Regions from separate parts of the Homo sapiens genome. Here region 2 is linked to region 1. The links come from fine-mapping of genetic effects on gene expression. A gene starts in region 1. The other region holds a variant in brackets. All regions are shown on one strand. Distances are between the middles of the regions.

Region 1 (8,649 bases):
GGTCTCGAACTCCTGACCTCACGTGATCTGCCCGCCTTGGCATCCCAAAGTTTTGGGATTACAGGAGTGAGTGACCGTGCCTGGCCTTATTTTTTTTAATTTTTACTTTTTGAGATGAATTATTCCTCTGTCACCCAAGCCAGAGTGCAGTGGCACAATCTCGGCTCACTGCAACCTTTGCTTCCTGGGTTCAAGTGATTCTTCTGCCTCAGCCCCCCAGGTAGCTGGGACTACGGGCGCCTACCACCATGCTGAGCTAATTTTTGTATTTTTCCGTGGAGACAAGGGTTTTACCATGTTGGCCAGGCAGGTACTGAACTCCTGACCTCAAGTGATCCACCTGCCTCAACTCCCAAAGTGCTGGGATTTCAGCCGTAAGCCACGGCACCTAGCCAATTTTTTTTTTTTTTAAACATCGTCTTGCTGTGTCACCCAGGCTGCAGTGCAGTGGCATGATCTCAGCTCACTGCAGCCTCAACCTCCTGGGCTCAAGCGATCCTCCTCTCTCAGCCTCCCAGGTAGCTGGGGCTATAGGCGTGTGACCCCATGCCCAGCTAATTTTTTGTAGAGATGGGGTTTTGCCATGTGCCCAGACTGGTCTTGAACTCCTTGAGCTCAAGTGATCCCACCCACCTCGGCCTGCCAAATTGCTGGGACTACAGGCGTGAGCCACTGCACCCAGCCTGATATAATAAACATTTTACTTACTTGTATTTTACTTAACTCTTCCCTCCATCACCTGAATATACAAGGGTAAGGATTTTTGTCTTTTTCACTGCTACTGACCTAGCCCAAGCAATATTTGGCAAATAGTGCTCAAATATCTGCTGAACAAACCAACCTTTGAAGATGCTTGAGAAAACTTCTGGATGAAGCGAAGCATACTGGCCCCTATTGAAAGTCTTGTTCAGGAAGATGCCAGGTAGTTCTGATTAACATGTTACAGCTAAGCAGAGGCACTGAATCAGGGGCATGTTTCTGTGTATAACACAAGGTGTCACTTAATTTTCCTCATTTTATACATTAATTTTTAAATAGTAGTAATTCATGAATATAACACTTTCCTTTGAAAAGAATCATTAATGTTTTCAAACTGTCGGTAACACAGTAACAAAATAGATCCTTTTAGTATCTGAACTGTTCTTTTAGCTTTGGCTGTCTAGTGTAATAGAAAGAGTAATGCACATAGAGATTTTACAGATACTTCCACCATTTCCTAGCTGTGTGACACTGGGCAAATTGCTTGAGTACTGGTTTTCTCATCTTTAAAATGAAGGGTCTTCTAAGTGGTGTTTTTGTGAAATTAAAAAAAAAACCAAAACAAAACTGGAAGGTCATAGCTTCTGTTTCCTTTTTTCCTCCTATTTTGGGGCTTAAGAGTTCACAACTCAAAATAACGATAGTACCAACCAATATAATTTAGGTTTTTTTAATTTGTTTGTTTGTTTTGAGACAAGAGTCTTGCTGTGTCGCCCAGGCTGGAGTGCAGTGGCGCGATCTTGGCTCACTGCATCATCTGCCTACCGGGTTCAAGCAATTCTTGTGCCTCAGCCTCCCAAGTAGCTGGGATTACAAGCTCCTGCCACCATGTCTGGCCAATTTTTGTATTTTCAGGAGAGATGGGGTTTCGCCATGTTGGCCAGGCTGGTCCTGAACTCCTGACCTCAGGTGATCCAACTGCCTAGGCCTCCCAAAGTGTTGGGATTACAGGCATGAGCCACCGCGCCCGGTGAGCATTAACTCATTTAATGCTCAAAATAACCTCATTAACTTAGTACTGAGAGAGAATAGCCTGTTGGAGTGCAGACTTTGGTGTCAAACTTGGTTGGAATCCTGGCTCCACTACTTATTAGCTGTGTGTCTTTGAACAAATTATTTAATCTTGTTATGGTGCAGTTCATTCACCTTTGAAATATGGATACTAATTCATAGGGTTGATGTAACATTTTTTTTTTTGGATACAGGGTCTCGCTCTGTCACCCAATCTGGACTGCAGTGGCGTGCTCTCCGCTGTCTGCAGCCTTGACCTCCCGGGATCGAGGGATCTTACCACCTCAGCCCTCTAAGGAGCTGGGACTACAGGCCACGCCACCATGCCCAGCCAATTTTTTTTTGAGACGGAGTCTTGCTCTGTCGCCCAGGGTGGAGTGCAGTGGTGCCATCTCAGCTCACTGCAAGCTTCGCCTCCCAGGTTCATGCCATTCTCCTGCCTCAGCCTCCTGAGTAGCTGGGACTACAGGCATATGCCACCACGCCCAGCTCATTTTTTGTATTTTTAGTAGAGACGGAGTTTCACCATGTTAGGATGGTCTCGATCTCCTGACCTCGTGATCCGCCTGCTTTGGCCTCCCAAAGTGCTGGGATTACAGGCATTAGGCACCGTGCCTGGCCCCAATTTTTGTATTTTTTGTATAGAAGGGGTTTTGCCATATTGCTCAGGCTGGTCTTGAACTCCTGAGCTCAAGCAATCCACCTGCCTCGGCCTCCCAAAGTGCTGGGATTGCAGGTGTGTGCCACTTAGCCTGATATAACACTTAATAAGTTACTACATGTAAATAGCTGAGAACCGTCCCTGACACAAAGCACTTTACACAGGAGGGACTGATTAAAAACTCTAATGTAAGCAGCCAGTAAAAACAGGTGAATGATAATATGGATCTAGATCTGACAATTTCATTCTTAACCAAGAGAATGGGATGTCTAAAAAAACCTACAGTTGCTGCTTAATTTTAAAAAATCGATTGGGCAGGGCGCAGTGACTCGCTCCTGTAAGCCCAGCAGTTTGGGAGGCCGAGGTGGGTGGATCACGAGGTCAGGAGTTCGAGACCAGCCTGGCCAACGTAGTGAACCTCCCCCCCGTCTCTACTAAAAATACAAAAAATTAGCTGGGCGTGGTGGCAGGCGCCTGTAATCCCAGCTACTCGGGAGGCTGAGGCAGGAGAATTGCTTGAACCTGGGAGGCGGAGGTTGCAGTGAGCCGAGATCGCGCCATTGCACTCCAGCCCACGAGACAGTGCGAAGCTCCGTCTCAAAAAAAAAAAAAAAAAATCGATTGAACTAATTTATTGATCACAGATCTTAGGGCTGGGTCAAGAAATCCTGTATACCAGTTAATGTCTTCATACTATACTTAAGGAAGCAAGTAGGGAGGTAAGTAATCCTGGGCCTCCGAGTAGAATTTAGATCACACCCACACCCACCCACCTGAGCCCCAGACCAAAATGCCCGCAGAGCGTACCCATCACTTTTGTTCAAAATCACTTTCTTCTTAAGGACTTTCCAGACCACTCCATTTAAAATCTCAACCATCCCCCCATCTTTGGAAACTCCCTTTCCTCTGTGGCACGTGCTTTCCAACTAGTGGGTATTAAAAAGTGATAACCTAAAAAGTCCAGGGACGGCAGGTGATGCGGGATTAAGGACTGAGACTCAAAGCTTAATCCTCCTAATATAAATGAAAAAGCTCAATATTCCCATTGCCCTGGTGGGAAGACTGCAAACTGCCAGCTTCAAACTGACCTCTGAGAAAGGAAGGCGGGGTTTAGACGCCAGTGTCTTCGGGAAACCCTGCCCGAGAGTGCCCGCGTCTCCAATTTACTACCAACCCTTGGTGCCCTCCCATCCCAACGTCGCAAATTTACTACCAACCCTTGGTGCCTCCCATCCCAACCTGCACCTGTGGCGACTTTGAGACTTGCCAGCGTTGCACGGAGAGAAGGAAAACAACCGCAACAACAGCCCAGGTCCACTGGAAAGGCACTTCCGGCAAGTGGATTCAGAGAGGCCCCTACTTCCTGAGGGCTGAAAAAAAATGAGTCCGGGTAGGGACTTGACCTGCGCTAATTGGTTCCTAGGCCCGGCTTTCTGTTTGGGGGCCATTCTTAATTTCTAGTTGAATCCAGATGTTGAACGGTCCTTGAAGTTCTATTCCAGGGCTCCCAGGCAGCAGAATCTGCCCACAGAGTTCGGGTAAGTAGAGTGCAAGTACTGAAACAATCTCAGAATGATGGTGGTGAAGGAAGGTAAGAGACGGGATTTTAGGCCCAGTGTGACCTGAATTGCTTGCCATCTGTGGGACTTATGTTTTACTTTGCAAAACAGGGTTTATAAGGCCTATGGGGACACATCTCACTGCATTAGGGCCCTTTACTATCATTTAGAGGGGGAAAAAAGCCCAGTTCTTACATCCATTTTCTTTGCTGGGACCTATAAACTTCATTAAGGGTTAAAGAGCACAAGAGCAGGATTTTCACTTCCATGAAAGGTGTGGTGATAAGGGCCCTAGGCTTGGGGGTGGTTCGGAAAGTCAGATCATTTCTCCTACTGCCCTCGGCTTTATTTCTCGGCTATGTGACCTTGGGCAAGTCCCTTCTCTTATCTAGACTTGTTTCACAGGAAATGGCACCAGGCAATTTTAGTGCCCTTCCGTGTCTATGGATAAAACTGAAGACATGTAGTAGGAGATCTCAGGGGCCCACGCCGGCCAGTCCCTCCAATCCTCCGGATTCTAGGTAGTCTAGCTTCCTGGTTGCCAGCCATTACACGGTTTAGCTTTCCGTGCCGGATGGAGCCACAGCGAAGTCTTCCTTAATAGTAAGCGCTTTTAGTCGAGCTAGGCCTTCAGTTTTATTGCCTTCTCTGTCATGGCAGCGCCGCCCCTTCCAGTAGTGCGATACCCAATGAGACTTCAGGTAGGAGAAACGGCACTGTCGCAAGCGCAGGCTCTCGCCGGAATCCCGCCCTTCGCTTGGGCGGGGGAGTGACGCCTGCGCTCCAGGGGAACTACTACTCCCAGCGGGTAGCGCGGCCGACGCAGCCGCGCAGCCTCCGGGGCCAGGCCGTGTGGCCCGCTGGGGACTGGAGTCTCAACGACGCGCACACGAGAAGTAAGGAGCGGAAGGTGGGAAAGGGCCGGAAAACACACGTTCCTCCGAAACCGGTTTGCAAGTCCTTGTAGAGGTAGTTTCGGGACGCGCACTGGCCAAGGGGCGGGCTGTGGGAGGGTGAAGAAAAAAGGGATACACACATGCATACCCACCCACTCATTCATACGCGCCCAGGCCCTGGAAGTGGGCAAGGGGGTTAGAAGGGGCGTACTAAACTAGGCTTGTCCGTGCCTCAGGCGGCACGAGGAAAGGCAGAGGATTCAATTCTGTAGGGGGCAGAGGTGACCATGCGCCGCCTCAAGCGGCGAAGAAGGGAGCCGGGGGCGGGGCAGGGCATAACCGCCGTTCTGGAGGCCGAACGTTGGCAGCGTAGGGAACTGGCGTCCGGGAGGGTCGCCGGAGCAGTCCCTTGCGCATGCGCTTCTTCAGGTGGGCGTGTGTAAGGCGGGGTCGGACGGGGGATGGGAGGGCCGTGCTGCTGGTCGCTCCTCCTCCTCCACCCGCTCTGCCCCTCCTGGACCTTGTGGGCCGGGCAGCCATTTTGGGAAGAGCTTTGTTATGGTTGTGGACTAGCCGCCTCTGCCGGGTCGACAAGCTGGGGACGCGTCCTCAGACGCAGCGTCTAGTCCCTGGCCATAGCTCCGCCGCTGCCCGGTGAGTGGGAGTTTGGGAAACGGGGCAGTAGGAGATCCTGGAGTCGTTCTGGCGCGGGGCTCCGCCCGGTGCCTAACCAACGGGCTGTTAAAACTAGTTGAAAGAAGCTCTCACACAGGTGGTTGGGTATAGGTCCGACCCGAGAGGGGCGAGCGGAGCCCACGGGTCAAGTGGTTCGGATGCGGCACCCCCGCCTCCCCCGTGCATGGAGCTTTGCACGCGAGCGTCGCCGGGGCTCCGCGAAAGCGCTCCTACTTTAACTTCGGTCGTCGGGTCGGAACGCTCACCTGCGGCTCTTTGGCTCCTCTCCAGGCGATCCGGCTTGGTGCTCGTTGAGTGACTTGGCTTACGGGTTTTTTTCTTTCCTTCTTGAAATGAGAGCTAAGGGCTTTTGTTTTCCTTCAAAGGAAAACCTAAGGAGGAAAAAGTGTAAGTCAAATGTTGGATATCTGAGGGGAAAAAAGTTTTAACCCCCAGCTTTCCGGTTCTCTGTGGTAGCGAGGTGTTTTCGCTTAGATTGAGTCTATCCGATATCTACCAACCTCCTTTCCTTGGAGGGGCAGGGAAAGCTGGTCGATCCTGAAATGTTTTAAGTGTTATTTTTTTTCTGTTGTTTTAAATCTAGTTCTCCCCAACCCGTGAAATTCGAAAGACAGTCTGAATCCAAAATGGCTGTAGCTTGGGGAAGTGCCCTGCCCTTCGATTACTTAAATACATTAACGTTTAAAGATTTTAGTCCTTTCCCCTGTGGGGACATTAACTGAATCTTTTGATATTTTGGTTTTTTGCAGTTGGTGTCTCACCTTTAACTCTCCTTATGCTGGGTGAAAACAAAGGTGAGGCTCACAAAGTTGACTATTCCAAAAGTTTACATAAGAATGGGTGCGGTGCGGTGGTGTGTGTGTTTAATAGTTGCTTATAGTTTTGAAATTGTGCTGTGGTGTCAATTTTATCTGCCAACTTCGTGCTCTGAAGTTGGCTTGTCATATTTGTTGAAATATTTTTAACATTGACATTTATTGCTTACCAGAAAAATACAGTTAATAATAGTGGTTCATGTTTTAGTTTAGTAGTAAGTCGTGTTCTTGTGTAAATCTTATCCAAAAGTAAAGTGATTGGTAGTCACTCCTCATTAGACTTATATTTGTAATTTAGTAGACTGCTGATCTTTTCTAAGGTCTTTTTTATCCAATATTTGAAAGGAAATTAGGGTGCTATTAAGTTTGAGATATTTACTAGAATAGTGTAAGACATTTTAACAAGTGAAAACATACTTTAGGTATGGAGTACCTGATTGTCGTGCCCTTTTGAACAAGAGACTGTCTTTTGTTTGCTTTTTTTTTTTAATCGATAGATCCAGAAGTTTAAACAAAAAGTCATAGATTGGAAACCAAAACCAATAAATTTCAATATTTGGAAAGGTGCTGAAGCCTGTATCTATTTAAAAGATAAAAGAGTGAAATGCTAATTGTGAATGAGAACTTTGAAATTAATAGTAAAATAAACTCATCTTTCCTAGGGAGTCAGTTTTCAATGTACCTTTTGACGTTTTTTCAAATACAAAAGTTGGTTTTTGTTAATACCCCTAGGATTTTTTGTTGTTGTTGTTAAATTATTTTGGTGGTTTTACAGGAAAAATATTTAAAGTTTTTAATAGAAATTACAAGCTAGTTGCTTTGTGTTTTGTCACTGTTAACTACTAAACTGGAGTGAGATATTGATTTTTTGGGGGGGTACTCAGTGGTTTGTACATGTTAATATAAACATTCAGTTGATTCTGGATGGTGTCTTTATCAGAGCTCTTGATTTGTGGTGTGGGGGGAACTCTTGGGGAAACCTTTATTTTGAGCGAATTCAATTTACTAGATTGCTCATCAGTGGCTGTTAAAATGCTTAGCTGAGGAGGACACATTCAACCATTTAAATTTAGAATGATAAGAAATCTGGTGCACATTTCTGCTTGTAATTCATTTTTAATTTTGAGTTAAAGATAAGACACAATCGTGAATCATACTTCAGAAGATTGCATATCTTTATTTTATGGCTATAACTCTGATGTGCCAGGGACTGACTGCTGTTTAAAGTGCTTTGTATTTGTTACTTACTTTTTTTTCCTTCTTTTCTTTTCTTTTTCTTTTTTTTTTTTTTTTTTTGAGACGGAGTTTCGCTCTTGTTGCCCAGGCTGGAGTGCGGTGGCTTGATTTCTGTTCACTGCAACCTCCGCCTCCTGGGTTCAAGCGATTCACCTGTCTCAGCCTCCCGAGTAGCTGGTATTACAGGGGCTCACCACTACGCCTGGCTAATTTTTTGTATTTTTAGTAGAGATGGGTTTCACCATGTTGGCCAGGCTGGTCTTGAACTCCTGACCTCAGGTGATCCGCCTGCCTTGGCCTCCCAAAGTGCTGGGATTATAGTCATGAGCCACCGCCCCCGCCCGGCTTGTTGTTTACTTTTATAAGTATACTGGTTTATTTGTTTTGTTTTGTTTTTGATACGGGGTCTCACTCTGTCACCCAGATTGGAGTGCGGTGGCATGATTTCAGCTCACTGCAGCCTCCACCTCTCAGGCTTAAGCAGTCCTCCCACCTCAACCTCCCTAGTAGCTGGGACGACAGGTGCGTGCCACCGCACCCAGCTAATTTTTTTTTTTTTTTTTTTTTGTATTTTATTAGAGAGGAGGGGGAGGGTTCATCCTATTGCCAAGCTGGTCTCGAACTCAGGGACTCAAGCAATGGTCTCGAACTCAGGGACTCAAGCAATCTGCTCACTTTGGCCTCCCAAAGTGTTGGGATTACAGGCGTGAGCCACAGCGCCAGGTCTAAGTAGATACTGTTTTATACCCTATTTTGTAGTTGAGGAAAAGGAGTCCAGAGATTCATCCAGCTGGTAGGTAACAGTCTATATTCAGGCCGGGCGCGGTGGCTCACGCCTGTAATCCCAGCACTTTGGGAGGCCGAGGCGGGCGGATCACGAGGTCAGGAGATGGAGACCATCTTGGCTAACACTGTGAAACCCCGTCTCTACTAAAAATACAAAAAATTAGCTGGGCGTGGTGGTAGGCGCCTGTAGTGCCAGCTACTCGGGAGGCTGAGGCTGGAGAATGGCATGA
Region 2 (8,649 bases), 43 kb after region 1:
GCCTCAGCCTCCCAAAGTGCTGGGATTACAGGCGTGAGCCACTGTGCTCAGCCCTGAAATTATTTTAAAGTAAAGTTAAAAATAAGACAAAGCAAGTAGAGTTGAGGAACCAACAAAATCTACAGATGCCATCTACGTCAAAGCAAAATGATATTTCCCCACATACCCGTAAAGGGATAGGGACAAACCACCAAAATCTATATAAGAGGCTTGGTTAATACTAGCATTTGTGCAGGGGGAACTGAAGGGAAGCAGCAGAGCACCTGACAGCATAAAGAATGCTAACAGAGCCAACCGTTTTTCTGGAAAGCTCGTAGGGCATATTTGAGAAGAGCAGCAGTTAATCGGGAGTAGTTTTCCGTAATGGAATAACAAGTAAATACAGGGGCTCTGGGATAAGGTATGAAGGATCTGACTGGACCAGTCAAGAGTTCAAACCACACAGTAGTTTGAATAGAGAAAGTTAATATAAGGAATTTAACTATAGCAAGATTGGAGTAATGAAGGATTGACTAGTACAAAGTAAAAAGATCTTTAAAGAAAATAGAAATAGCACGTAGTCACAGTTCAGTGGCTCACGCCTGTGATTGCAGCACTTTGGGAGGTCGAGGCAGGGCGATTGCTTGAGTCCAGGAGTTTGAGACCAGCCTGGGCAACGTGGTGAAACTTTTGTCTCTACAAAAAATTTAAAAATTAGCTGGACGTGGTGGGTACCTGGTAGTCCCAGCTACTCAGGGGGCTGAGGTGGGAGGATTGCTTGAGTCTGGCAGGTCGTAGCTGCAGTGAGCCCAGATGGCACCACTTCATTCCACCCTGGGTAACAGAGTGAGACCCTGTCTCAAAAAAAAAGAAAAAAACATACACACAGACATATATGCATACATACAAGGAGCAGCCACTACCCTTAGGGCTAAGACAGTGTGTCCAAGAATGAGTCCCCCATTTCCCTACCACCACCCCAGGGCTGAGATTCATACCTGGTTAGAAAGGGCTCAGTTGTGGCTCACTGAATGGCAGAGTAATTGCTGATGTGCTTCTCTGGGGAAGCGTGCTGAAAGGCTTTTCATGAGAGGTGTCACTCTGCTACAAAACTACTCAGATGAGGTGCTGAGGGAAGCTGCTGGTCTCTGAGCTCACTTATATGTCAGAACCTGGCTTTGAGGAACTGGGTGCTGTGGGAGCCTGCTGAAAAACACACAGGAACAGGAAGTAAAAATCTCTCCATTGTTCTCCGCTGGCAGAAGTTAACATGCCAGCTGTCAAAGGAAAAGTTTTAAAGTGTCCAGGCACATTTTTGCTCAACAGGCAGAAGGGATGACTTTGTGACTAAGAAGCGGTAACCAGCACAGGGTTCTATCGTTGTTCATGCTAGCTGGCCACTATACCCTTCCAGAACAAAGCCCGTCACTGAGGACAAACTGTTGGAAATATAATCCAGATTGAGCTGCAGAGAGACAAGTTAGTAGAGACGAAAGGAAAGGTTCAGATAAAAGCGGTAGGGAGAAGATAACCAGGACATTAAAGAACGTAAACCCGGGAGGCAGAGGTTGCAGTGAGCCAAGATCGCACCATTGCACTCCGGCCTGGGCAACAAGAGTATGAAACTTGGTCTCAGAAAAAAAAAAAAAAAAATCCTAAGAAGTTGGTTTAAAAAAAAAAATCATCTGGGAAAACTCAAAATAAGGGGCTAGAACTCTTGAAAAGAAGTAATAATAAAAAATTTCAGAAAAATACTGAAGAATAAAGAGAATAAATAATATTTTTCAAGAATTAGACAGCGAAGGAAAATTTTTTAAATGAAGGAGAAATACATAGGTAAAAAATTAAAACTGGGAAAAAAAAGTTTGGCAGAAAAGATCTAATATAGATATATAATAGGATCTTCCCACCCCGCCCCCAGAAAGAAAACCAAAATAAAGGAATAGCTTAAATACTGACAAGTGGCCGGGTACGGTGGCTCACACCTGTAATCCCAGCAGTTTGGGAGGCCGAGGGGGGCAGATCACGAGGTCAGGAGATCGAGACCATCCTGACTAACATGTTGAAACCCTGTCTCTACTAAAAATACAAAAAATTAGCCAGGCATGGTGGCGGGCGCCTGTAGTCCTAGCTACTCGGGAGGCTGTGAGGCAGGAGAATGGCGTGAACCCGGGAGGTGGAGCTTGCAGTGAGCTGAGATCGCGCCACTGCACTCCAGCCTGGGGACAGAGTGAGACTCCGTCTCAAAAAAAAAAAAAATACTGAAAAGTATAATTCAGGAACATTTTTCTGAAATACATTTAGATTTGAATCTACAAATTGAAAGGATAGCCAGGATGACTAAGACATACTCTTACAAAATACTAGACTTGAACAAAAAAAGAAAGATATCCTTTGGCCATTCAGGCATAAAGACTGAGTTGTTAAGAGAAAGAAAACCAGATAGACTGTGACAGCAAAGCTTTATAACAAGTAAATGGAGTAACAATTACAATAAAGAAAATGTGAGCCAAAGATTTTGTGCTTTGTCAAGCTAATGTTCAGTTATAAAGATCACAGACAAACATCAATGTGTAAGTACTTGGAATATTGCTCTTTCCGGCATTGTTTCGCGCTGCCACAATGGTGTGTGTGAACATCCTACCTGTTGCTCTCAAGAGTATCACCAATGCCGAAAAGAGAGGGAAACGCCGGTTCTTACTAGGCCATGCTCCAAAGTCATTGTCCAACTTCTAGCTGTGATGATGAAGCATCGTTACATTGGCAAATTTGAAATCATTGATGATAACAGAGCTGGGAAAATTGTGAACCTCACAGGCAGGCTAAACAAGTGTAGAGCCCCAGCTTTGATTTGCAACTCAAAGATCTAGAAAAACGGCAGAACAATCTGCTTCTATCCCAACCATTTGACTTCGTCATATTGACAGCCTTAGCTGGTATCATGGACCATGAAGAAGCAAGACGAAAACACACAGGAGGGAAAATCCTTGGATTTTGTTTCTAGGGATGCAATACATATTTACAAATAAAATGCCTCAAAAAAAAAAAAAACAAAAAACTTCGGAATATCGTTCCCAAGACTTTTCCTGAGAACTACTGAAGAACAAGCTTCTGACAAACTAACCAGAAAGATTACAAAAGGAATGGTGGTAAATACTAAATGTATGGTTAATTGTAGAGCTAAGAAGAAATGAGGGTTAAAAGAGAGTTAGCATGTGATAGTTATATGATCTCACAATCTGGACATAGTATAACTTTTTTAAAGTGGGAAGATGGGGAGAACATGTCCAAAAAAAACAAAACATTTTGGTCACTGGTGAAATACTGACATTGCTATTCTGAAACTTGTGCATAATATGGAATAAAGCAATTAAATATGATATTCTATACTTTGTATGCTTGAGAATCAGGATTCTTGTAGGAGGAAATAAAAACGTAAAATAGATGTTCCGTAAAATCCACAAGGGTACTCAGTTTGAATTGGGAATATCAGTAATAAGTTATGAGGTGTTTTAGCTTTGGAGTGAAAAATACATACTTCTAGGCGGTTCTGTCCACTGAAAAGACATAAAAACAGTGAACAACCCCATAGCAATGAGTGGCTCTACTGCCTGGATTGTGATCTTGAAATAGTTTATCCAGACAGCATACTTAAAAGAAGAGCTTGGAATATTTTTTCAAACTAGATAACAAAGAAGTAAAGAACTACTTAGGGTTGTAGCAAAAGGATTTAGAAGCCAAATTGAAGAGGGTTCCATAGGCCAAACATGGGACAGTTTTATGCATCAATTAATAATAATAACGACGAGGGTTGAATCACATCAAATTGGATTTAAATCTGTGAATTCACAATGATACCTACCTCACCTTAGGAACAAGCATGTATCATATTTTTTCTATATGAACTGTACTGTTGAAT[T/C]GCCAAATAGGGGAAGTTCCTATTTATGGAAGTATACTACTTTATAAAGAATTGTAAAATTAGATCATTGTTTTTGCATCTTGTATTGAGCTGACAGTTTTAGGCTATGAGCACCAGTGTCTGCCAGCATCACTAAAAGAAGCACAACCACATGTTATTTGTGTGTGTCTCCTAATGGAAGAATACAAAACCACTAAGGATTCTGTAACCTCTAGAACCAACTACCAATTTATAGAAAGAGGCTTAAGATTTTCTAAAAACTAGTAGATTAAAAGCTGAGATTGTTTTTGGAGACAAAACTATAGTGTCAAGGGAGACACAATGGGTTAGTAAAAAAAAAAAATGCAGTGATCACCATAAGTATGAGTAGTTTTGGGGTTTTTTTCTAATGAGATTTGTAATGTCTTTCTGGTTTGTCTGGTAATGTTATGTTGCTTAAACCATGTAGTGTTTAAAAGAACTTTTACCCATTAACTTATTCATTTGTTTTATATTTTTCCTGTTTATATTTTACAAGTTTTAAAACTGTATTTTTTAAAACAGTAGAAAGAGATCAAAGATACTGTATAAATAGGAGCATTGTCTCTGAGAACCCTGGGTACAACATGCCTATTAAAATGAAACAAGGAAACAACCACAGCTTTTATGGCTGGGCACTCCTTCTGCCTCTACCACTCCATCTAGAGGAATGTATTTACCTGTCCTTGAAAATCTGTCACTGATTTGTCCACTTATATAGAGAGTTGGTAGTTTCATTTGCATTTGTGCTTGTTCTCCTATTGTAGTGGTTCTCACCTTGATTGCTTGGAAAATACATACCTGCTAGAGGCCCTGCCCCTGGAGATTCTGATTCTGAAGCTCTGTAGTGGAGCCTGGGTGTCTTTTTGTTGTTTGTATAATGTTCACAGGCAATTGTGCTGAAAAGCCATTTTCCTGCTGGGCACAGTGGCTCATGCCTGTAATCTCAGCACTTTGGGAGGCCAAGGTGAGTGGATCACTTGAGGTCAGTTCGAGACCAGCCTGGCCAGCATGGTGAAACCCTGTCTGTACTAAAAATACAAAAATTAGCTGGGTGTGGTGGTGCGCACCTGTAATCCCAGTTACTCAGGAAGCTGAGACAGGAGAATTGCTTGAACCTGGAAAGTGGAGGTTGCAATGAGCCAGGATTGTGCCACTGTACTCCAACCTGGGCAACAGAGTGACACTCTGTCACAAAAAAAAAAAAAAAAAAAAAAAAAAAAAGCCATTCTCCTACCCTGTTACCAGATCGTAAAGTTTGGGCTAGGACAGCAGTGTCATACGATTAGTTATTAAGTCTAGTCTATTGCTCTTAACTCTTCCCTGCCCTTTCCCTTATCTCGTTCTCTACTTCTGTTACCTTTATTACCCTCCCGGACTATGGAATTGATCTCCTAATGGTCTCTTAGTTGATGTTTAAATACCTCAGATCCATCCTTTAAGCTGCTACTAGAGTGACGGTTGTAAGTTGATAATTAGATAATGTTAACTGCATGAAAGATGGATCCTCATTACCTGTAGAATAAAACTTAATCTCCCCTAAGAAATCCTCCACAAGCTGGCTCTTGCCTGCTTTGCCAGATACCTCTTTCCCCACAGAAGGGTCCCCTCCTTCCCTAGCACTACTCATGCTGAACTATTTGCAGACCTGAATATTCTGTTCTTTTTAATGCTTTCTGTTCCTGGAATTACCGTTTTTCCAGCTTTGGAATTCATCTTTAAGGATTCTTAAATCACCTGTTAGTAAAGCCTTTTCTGATAGCACTTCTCTTTCAAGTAGAATTGATGTTTCTTACTGAGTACTCCTTCTTCCCTAATATGAATTTTTTTCATCGTCCTTGTAACCTTTTATTGTACTTAACTTGTCTAGAAGTTTTTATAGCAAAACTGTGACCCGTGTGAAGACAGGGGCTCTTTATTGTATTTCTAGCACAGTCCTTGGCATATGGTCTGCCCCTGCCCTACACCCATCTTAGAAATGCAGTGAATACTATACATTTCACTGACCACATTGTCCTCCTTTAATCTGAGGAAAATGATCCACATTCTTGTTCATCTAACTTTCAGTGCCTCCTTATTTGGCATACATATCCTATAGGAAAGTGGGAATTCGCACATTTAGTCTGTTTATTTAAAATAAATGAAATCCCTTATATCAAAGGAAATGAAACTCAGGAGAACCTAATATTAACATAATACCTATTGATTTTGTGTTTTGATATTTTCTGTTTGTTACGTTTCTGAATACAGTGTCAAATTAGTAAGTGTTGCTAATATGTAAAATATGTAATTATTTGATAGGTTCCATGGTGATGGCTACTTTGTGAAAAGTGCCAAAATGATCAGCTTTCTGTATCAACCATTCATATCCCTTTTTTCCTAGCCTTCCTTGAATCCAGAAGCTGGCAAACAGCATCAGCCATGCAGACCTATTGGGACACCTTCTGGAGTATGGGGTAGGTAGATTTTGCCATTTTAAAGGCACAACTTTAAAATTTTTTCTTAGCAGGGAGGGGAGCAAAGATTCCTTATCTCTTTTTATCTCTTGTTTCTCATCTCATGCATTTGCCCATGGTAACTAACATCTGACTGTAGCGGGTTATTCTGCCCCCTACCCCACCGCCCAACCCCCAAACACCACTGAAATGTTACCATGGTAGTAGAGTCAAAATACAGACAACTGAGAACTTATAGAACCGTGAATTTGGAAGCAGTTGTTTTGGTGGTGTTTGTTAGTCTGTTTGTTTGAGACAGTCTCATTCTGTTGCCCAGGCTGTAGTGCAGTGGCGCAATCTCAGCTCACTGCAGCCTCCACCTCCCTAGCTGGGACTACACCATGCCTGGCTAATGTTTGTATTTTTAGTCCAGACAGGGTTTTACCATGTTGATCAGGCTTGTCTTGAATTCTTGGCCTCAAGTGATCCACCCATCTTGGCCTCCCAAAGTGCTGGGATTACAGGCATGAGCCACCGTAGCCAACATGGAAGCAGATTTTAAGTAGAAAAAGTTCATGAAAAGTAACTTAATTAACATTGCTACTTCACTTACTTTTTTTTTTTTTTTTTTTTGAGATGGAGTCTCACTCTGTTGCCAGGCTGGAGTGCGGTGGCGAGATCTCAGCTCACTGCAACCTCAGCCTCCCGGATTCAAGCTTTTCTCCTGCCTCAGCCTCCTAAGTAGCTGGGAATACAGGCCTATGCCACCACGCCCGGCTAATTTTTGTTATTTAGTAGAGATGGGGTTTCACCATGTTGGCCACGATGGTCTCGATCTCTTGACCTCATCATCCGCCTGCCTCGGCCTCTCAAAGTGCTGAGATTACAGGCGTGAGCCACCATACCCAGCCCATAACAATATATTCTTAAACATTCATATATATGTATGTTTAAATATTCGTGTGTGTGTGTGTGTGTGTGTGTGTTTATGTGTATGTGTGTGTATATATATGTTTGTGGTTTTTTGTTTTGTTTTGTTTTGTTTTTTGAGACAGAATCTCACTCTGTCGCCCAGGCTAGAGTGCAGTGGTGCGATAGGAATCTGTATTTCAAACCAAACCTCATCTGTGGCATTGGGATCTTTGGCATTTACAAATTGGACTCTCCTGGTTTCTTCATTAGACATGTTGATAGCCAAGAACATGGGAAGTCTTTAACATATCTAAATGATGGGTTTAGAATCCAGTATTGTAGGATTAAGATTGATCGATGTACCTTCTCCTCTTTGCTAATGGTGTATACCTTTGCTCCAGTTTGCCTCATCAGAGGGTTTCATGGCAGACTCCAATCCCTGATTACCTCATCTCTCTATTCTCATGCTGACAGGAGCTGCTACTTTTAGGTGTTTTTTTTTGTTTTGTTTTTGTTTTTTTGAGTTAGGGTCTGACTTTGTCATCCATGCTGGAGTGCAGTGGCACAGTCATGGCTCGCTGCAGCCTCGACCTGGGCTCAAGTGATTCTCCCGCCTCAGCCTCCTAAGTAGCTGGGACCACAGGTGTGCACCACCATGCCTGGCTAATGTTTGTATTTTTTGTAAAGATGGGGATTTGCCACAGGGTTTGCCAGCCCAGGCTGGTCTCGAACTCTTGGGACTCAAGTGATCTGCCCACCTCAGCACCTCCAAGTGCTGAGATTACAGGCATGAGCCACAGTGCCTGGCGCTTGGATTTATTCTTGTTGGGTTCATGCTTAACTGATCACACTGTCCATCAGACATATTGTGCCCCTGAAGGACTGCTAACATCTTTGGACTTCCTGGCTGATTTATAAATTTAGTATCCAGTTCCTCATATGCTGCATTTTTTTGTACAGTTCCTGAGTAGTCTCACTTTTGAGAGTATCTATTAAGTGCATACCAGGGAATGTTTAATCCCTCTGTCTCAACTGTCAGCTGTTTTGTTGACTAAGGCCTTTGTATAAACTATGCTTCATGTTACACAACAGGTTTGACATTCTGTTGTCTCTCCACTCTTGTACTTCACAGAAAACCCGCCTAGTGCCAAGCAACCCTCCAAGATGCTAGTTATCAAAAAAGTTTCCAAAGAGGATCCTGCTGCTGCCTTCTCTGCTGCATTCACCTCACCAGGATCTCACCATGCAAATGGGAACAAATTGTCATCCGTGGTTCCAAGTGTCTATAAGAACCTGGTTCCTAAGCCTGTACCACCTCCTTCCAAGGTATGATTTAGAATCAGGGCAAGAACCTTATACAAGAGAGGTTTGGGAATAAATCAGGAA

Evidence for each region. PIP is the estimated chance that this variant, and not a neighbour inherited with it, causes the effect. A credible set is the group of variants that fine-mapping cannot tell apart.
Region 2: its variant is the best candidate, but not a certain one, in a credible set for the expression of TMEM69 in whole blood (INTERVAL, PIP 0.74).

Annotation. Positions count from the first base shown.
Region 1 is chr1:45,683,303-45,691,951 of GRCh38, reverse strand. It overlaps TMEM69 (transmembrane protein 69), which reads right to left and starts at 3,771. Exons shown (of 3, transcript NM_016486.4): 1 at 3,677-3,771; 2 at 842-978. The coding sequence starts at 883. It overlaps GPBP1L1 (GC-rich promoter binding protein 1 like 1), which reads left to right and starts at 5,419. Exons shown (of 13, transcript NM_021639.5): 1 at 5,419-5,540; 2 at 6,332-6,376. RefSeq lists enhancers at 3,760-3,829, 4,779-5,108, 5,129-5,248, 5,319-5,368, 5,429-5,578 and 1 more.
Region 2 is chr1:45,640,150-45,648,798 of GRCh38, reverse strand. It overlaps GPBP1L1 (GC-rich promoter binding protein 1 like 1), which reads left to right. Exons shown (of 13, transcript NM_021639.5): 7 at 6,300-6,372; 8 at 8,396-8,589. It also overlaps the pseudogene RPS15AP10. Among named protein-coding and RNA genes, the nearest start is that of CCDC17, 20 kb to the right of the region's middle. The variant T/C (reference allele first, on the strand shown) is at 3,899.